Linked DNA regions of Homo sapiens: region 1 is linked to region 2. Evidence: fine-mapped expression QTL. A gene starts in region 2. The other region holds a variant in brackets. All regions are shown on one strand. Distances are from middle to middle.

Region 1 (2,897 bases), 28 kb before region 2:
TGAAAAGCAAGGACGCTGAGGCTGTGGAAGTCCACGTACTTACTGACTCGCAGCGCCTGTGAGTGGGCGGGAAGGAGCGTCTGCCCCTCAGTCGTGGTCCGGCTCCTTCTCTCACAGACGTGGACCTTTGGAGGGCAGTCCCAGCGCCACGGAGAAATGCATCTCCAGAAACACTCGTGGCTTCCTCAAACTGAGCACAACCAGACCTCCCCAGCGCTGACCTACGGCACAATTGTTCATGCACGAGAGCCGCCTTATGGGGTGAGTGCGTGACTCTGGTGCGAGGTTTATGTTCCCAGGGCTGACATGTCTGGGAGCTTCACAGCTGGACGAGGCATATTTGGAGGGGCGCCTTGAACCTGGACAGCACCCCCTCCTTGCCTCCCTCAGGCCGTTTGGCCACAGAACCTGTGACATGGGCAGGCTCAGGAGAGGAGAGGAGGAAGGGAAGGAGCCCAGGCCCCGAGGAGGGAAGATTGCCGGGGGCCAGGGTGGGGGTGGGGTGGGGTGGGGGCCCAGGGCCCAGGGCTGGGGCAGCTCTGGGTGCCAAATGCGGTTTCGTCCAGAGGACACTGCAAGGCTGGAATGAAACACCCTGTCCTCTTCAGCTTGTAGCGGGTCAGAGGCCGCTGGTTTTGAAGAGATTTGCCAGTGATCTGTGGGAGGAAACACTCAGCAGAGGTTTAGGTGGCACGTGGAGACTGTGCGGGGAATACAGCCCAAATGGGGAGGACAGAAGACACCACAGCCACCCAGGGTGTGAGAGCTGCGACAGGCGCCTGTTAGAGCGGAACCACAGGGGCCCGGCCCCATCTCGGGGTCCGGGGTGGCTTCCCTGCGGGGGCGGCCTCTGTGCAGAGGCCTGAAGGGTCCACAGTGGCAAAGGGGGAATGACAAAGTGTCTGCCTGTGCCGGACCGAGTGATCTGTACTATAATTACCCTGTGAGGGGCGCACGCTGCCGTCCTAGAGCGTCACAGACACCAGCCCCCGGGCCTGTTGGTACTCGCCGGAGGTCCCTGCGTGCCCAGAGTCCCGCCCTGGCCATCGTTTAGTGTGAGGCAGGAGGGGGCCAGATATGGGGGGGACGCCTGGCTCCCCCAGATCTCTCTTGCCTGCTCTTTCCTCCGCAGGCTGCCTGTGCCCCTCCCCCGTAGCCAGGAACAGGCCCTGGGGAGTGGTGGGAGGCCGTGCAGTGAGGCTTGCGGCCCTGGATGCTCCCTCAGGACTGTCTGGGACCAGGCTCGTCTCACAATCCGAATTAACTGCAGACCTCACTTCGAGAACAGCCTGGCCCAGCCCTGATACTCGGGGAAAGAGCAGCGGTCGGAGGAGGCAGGAGGAGCGCACGGAGGGCAAGCCGGGGGCCCATGTGTGGCTGGGGCAGCCGTGGCCTCCTCAGCACAGTGTGAGCCCAGCAGCCTTGCCGTGGCCAAGGCCCTGGGCCTGGGAACTTGTAATCCAGTCGCTGACTTTGCTTAGTTAGCAGAAATGGAAGACACCTCATTTGTGGAGACCGAGGTGGTGGAATGTTGACCCTGGGGGTGTTGCTGTGGGAGGCC[A/G]GTGAGCTGTTAGCCCAGTGGGCAGGACCTGGGTGACCGACGCCCTGGGGGTCTCATAACTCCCTGGACCTTCTCCTTTCTTGGTGGAGCTTGGCCAAAACCCACGGATATTTTACATCTGTTTCCCTGAAGTGCTAGGGACGTTCTGTAGTTTCAGCCATGCTCCTCGGGCAAGCCCCGGGATGGGGTGGGGGGGGCCAGAACAATGTGGGGTGGGCGTGGCCGGACGCCAGCTGCCCCTCAGCAGGGGCTTCAGCTCCATCACAGCCATGTGGACTGTGGCTCAGCCTGGGTGGACAAGGAGGTGTATACAGTTAGCACAGCCAGAGCAAGCCAGCCCTGCCCACTGAGGTGCACAGAGCACCAATCCGCTGGCCCTCCCTCCCTCTTTCACCTGTTCTGTGCCCATTTATTGGCTGCCTCCTGTACCGGGGTCTTGCTTTGGCACCGAGGAAACTGCAGTCAAGGCCGGAGGCTCCTGCCTTGAAGATCCCAAGACCGGGATGGAGACTGATGAGCCGGATGTGTCCCAGCGTGTAATGCAGGGTGGGCTGAGTGCGCCCCCCGACGTCTGTGTGGGAATCCTCACCAGCAAGGCCATGGTGTTAGGAGGGGGTGCCTGTGGGAGCCGGTGAGGTTGTGAGGATGGAGGCTCACGGGTGGGATTAGTGCCTTTGTAAGGGGGGCCCTGGGAGCTCGCAAGCCCCTTCCGCCCTGAGAAGACGTAGCGGCCAGGGAGGGGGCCTGGACCAGGAATGGAACTGGCCGGCACCTCGATCCTGGACTTCCAGCCTCCAGAATCATGAGGAGTGGGCAGAGTGAGGCCACACGGCCTATGAAGATCTGTTGTAGTGACCAGAGGGAAGACACAGTGCAGTGGACACGCCGGGGCTGGTGTGTGTCCTGCAGCCTCTCTGGGAGCCCAGGGCACCTGCTCCCAGGAATCACATGTGAGAAGCAAAACACAAGGACAGGCTGCGGGGAGGCGGCCCCGGACCCCCACTGGATGCCTCACTTCACACACCTGCCACCGAGGGGGACAGTGCCGGCCTCCCAGACCTGCACCCCAGCCCACAGGTGGGCACTCCACCCATGCACTGTCAGGGCTGCCAAAGCCTCATGCCCTCCCACCACCTTCTGCTGGGCAGCCCCTTCCTCAGAGAACAAAGAGCATTTTGGTTTTTTTTTTGAGACAGGGTCTTGCTGCATCGCCCAGGCTGCAGTGCAGTGGCATGATCTCAGCTCACTGCAGCCTTGACCTCCTGGGCTCAAGTGATTCTCCCACCTCAGCCTCCCGAGTAGCTGGGACCACAGGCGCCACCATGCCCGGCTAATT
Region 2 (2,897 bases):
CAGGAGTTGCAGAGGCACTTCAGGGAGCTCCGTCAAAAGCAGATGAGCACGATTCACCTGTTCAGAACAGGCGGTTCACTATGTTCTAGCTGCATGATCCCTCAGTTAAAATCTTACCGTGAAGTTCCGTGCAAGAAACCTAAAAGTTCCAGCTCTTATGGGGTAGGGGGCCAAAGCCCCAGCATCTTCCCCACAACAGGTCCTCTTATGACCCCTCCCCCAGCCCGAGGCACTGCTGGGGACCCCAGGAAACTACAGGACATCCCCCATTAGCTCAACTCCAGCTTCTCGTTGCTGGGTGGGGACACAGAGTCTTGGGGAAGATTTTGCCACAAACATAGATGTGGGCGTTTACGTAAACACAGAACTCTATCCCGAAGCAGACAAGAGACTCCCAGATTCCCAGGGGACTTGAACCAGGATATTACTAGCAAGTCATACTCCATTCCAGGTAGCAATGATACATTAGCTATGCAGAAAGTCATCGTTCTTCAACAAACCACTCTCATTTTAATTGCCACATTTTCATTATCCACATTAATCATTAAAATGAAAGTACCATCTCAACTCCTGTCGCCATGAACTCAACTAAAACAGGTAGACAAAATGGGGGAAAGGGAAAAGAAAAGGAAATAGAGAAGCATAGAGATGGTGACGTCTGAACACAAGACAGGAGCTGCTCCTTGGAAACCGGCTTCCTGGCGCTCTTCCCTCAGCGCTCCCTCCCGGGAAGGATGTGCTGAACCATAAACTTATTTCTCACAGCAACGTCTATCAGGGATGTTTCCTTCACAGGCCCAGTGAAAGGGCTGGCCCTTGACACCTCACAGACACCTGGCCTAAGCAGAGTGAGGCGGTCCAGGGACTTTCCATACACAGGCTGTGTCCTGAGGCTCTGCTCACCCCATACCCCTGCTCACCCCCACGGCCCTGCTCACCCCCACGGCTCTGCTCACCCTCACAGCCCTGCTCACCCCCACGGCTCTGCTCACCCTCACGGCCCTGCTCACCCCCACAGCCTTGCTCACCCCCACGGCCACCCAGGGCCCTGCTCACCCCCATGGCTCTGCTCACCCCCACAGCCCTGCTCACCCCTATGGCCACCCAGGGCCCTCCTCACCCCCATGGCTCTGTTTACTCCCAAGGCCATCCAGGGCCCTGCTCACCCCCACGGCCACCCAGGGCCCTGCTCACCCCCACGGCCACCCGGAGCCCTGCTCACCCCCACAGCTCTGTTTACCCCCACGGCCACCCAGGGCCCTGCTCACCCCCACGGCCAGCCGCAGTTGCTCCCGGCTGGGCAGCAGCACGAGGACATCCCTGTGTTCCGAGGCCATCGCGTCCATTCCCAGGGTCGGCTCCTGCTGACTGCATGCAGGCCTCTCAGGACTGGGTTCCATACATCGCGCCCCTGAAGGAGGGAACGTGTCAGGGTTTGTCCGGGCGGGGTCTATGCCCCTCCCTCTCGGGGGCACCGCCATGCTGTCGTTACTCGGCCCTCCCCCGCCATGGGTCGCAGGTGGGTGCTCAGCACCTCCCAGATCACAGCTGTGCTTTCCGGGACCCGCCCTTGCCGAGCTTCTCACTGGGAAGGGAATTGAGAGGGAAGCCTGGGCTGGGAATCCAGCATGGCCAAGCCAGGACAAGGGTCAGAGCTGCAAATAGCTGGGTGTGTGGAGGGCGCCAGGAATGCAAATAAACAACCTCAGGCTGGGCACCCGCCATGCAGCACTCCCATGCAGGGTAGCTCAGCAGCCAGCCTCGGTGTGGGCCCCGTGAGAACCAGGCTGGGGGAGACAGGACCCAACTCCTCCACCTGACAACCCCTATCTCCTCAGGGTGCCTGCTCCTTCTTCTATAATGTGGAGAGGGCTATGCAAACCCCATGGGCACAGATGCCAGAGCCAGGGCTGCTGGGGAAGATGGAGCAGCAGCAGGGCAGGACGAGGAGGGCGGGAGGAAGGCAGCCTGGGTGGGCACCCTGCCCCACACACCTCCTGTGGCATCTGTTATCGACCTCAGGAAGCAGCACAGCTGCCGTTCCTGGACAGGTTCTGCCAGGAGGGACCCTGGCTCCCTTTAGGGGCTGGAAACTGAGGACACTTCCTTCCTTGTCCAGGGCCAGCAAATCCCTTCCTGCCTGCAGCAGCTGGAAGGCCAGGAAGGGGGTCCTGGCTTGCGTGGACAGCAGCCGGGTGCATCAGCACGAGGGGTGGGGACATCTCCCGCAGGGCCTGGAACCCCTGAGGCCGCTCAGCAGAGATGAGCAACGCCTTCGAGCTCTTTGGCACAGTGTTAGGTGGGGAAGGGACCCCAGGATCCTGCCTGGCCCTGGGACCACCCAGACCTTTGGGCGCTGCAGGTCAGGAGAGGCAGTTCCCACGGGCCTGGGCTGTGGAATTCTGTCCTCAGCCGTGAGCTCCATCAGTTTCCTGCCATGGAGTCTGGGATGCTCTGGGACCTTCCTCTAGTAAGGGGTCTGGACCTCCGGACGGGCCGTTGTTCATCTTAGGAAATTCGCACTCCAGCCGCCTTAAGGCCTGGCCCGGTGGGTTTAGGAAATTCGCACTCCAGCCGCCCTAAGGCCCGGCCCGGTGGGTTGAGAAGATTTAGGAGGCTTAGGCCTCACCTCCCCCGGACCCTGGACTGACACTGGCTCCCTCCCTCCCTCCCTCCGCTCAGATCCAGACCCTTCCCAGACCCTCGAGGCCACACATGTGTGCCCAAGACAGCAGTGGCGGTCTCTTTTCTCTCCACAGCAAACGTAGAGCTGTTCACTATGGAAGATGTGGGGATCCCTTTAGCTGAGAGCACAAAAAGTTTTAAAAATGGCAAAAAAACCACAAAAAAAAACAGCCCCAGAGAGCAGAGGCTGGATCCTCATGGCCCTGTGCCAC

What was found.
Region 1: its variant is fine-mapped to the expression of FRMD1 in lung (TOPMed, PIP above 0.99).

What each region holds. Positions count from the first base shown.
Region 1 is chr6:168,049,260-168,052,156 of GRCh38, forward strand. No RefSeq gene overlaps it. Among named protein-coding and RNA genes, the nearest start is that of FRMD1, 29 kb to the right of the region's middle. The variant A/G (reference allele first, on the strand shown) is at 1,562.
Region 2 is chr6:168,077,614-168,080,510 of GRCh38, forward strand. FRMD1 (FERM domain containing 1) reads right to left here and starts at 1,599. Exons shown (of 11, transcript NM_024919.6): 1 at 1,269-1,599. The coding sequence starts at 1,481. RefSeq lists an enhancer at 590-1,311.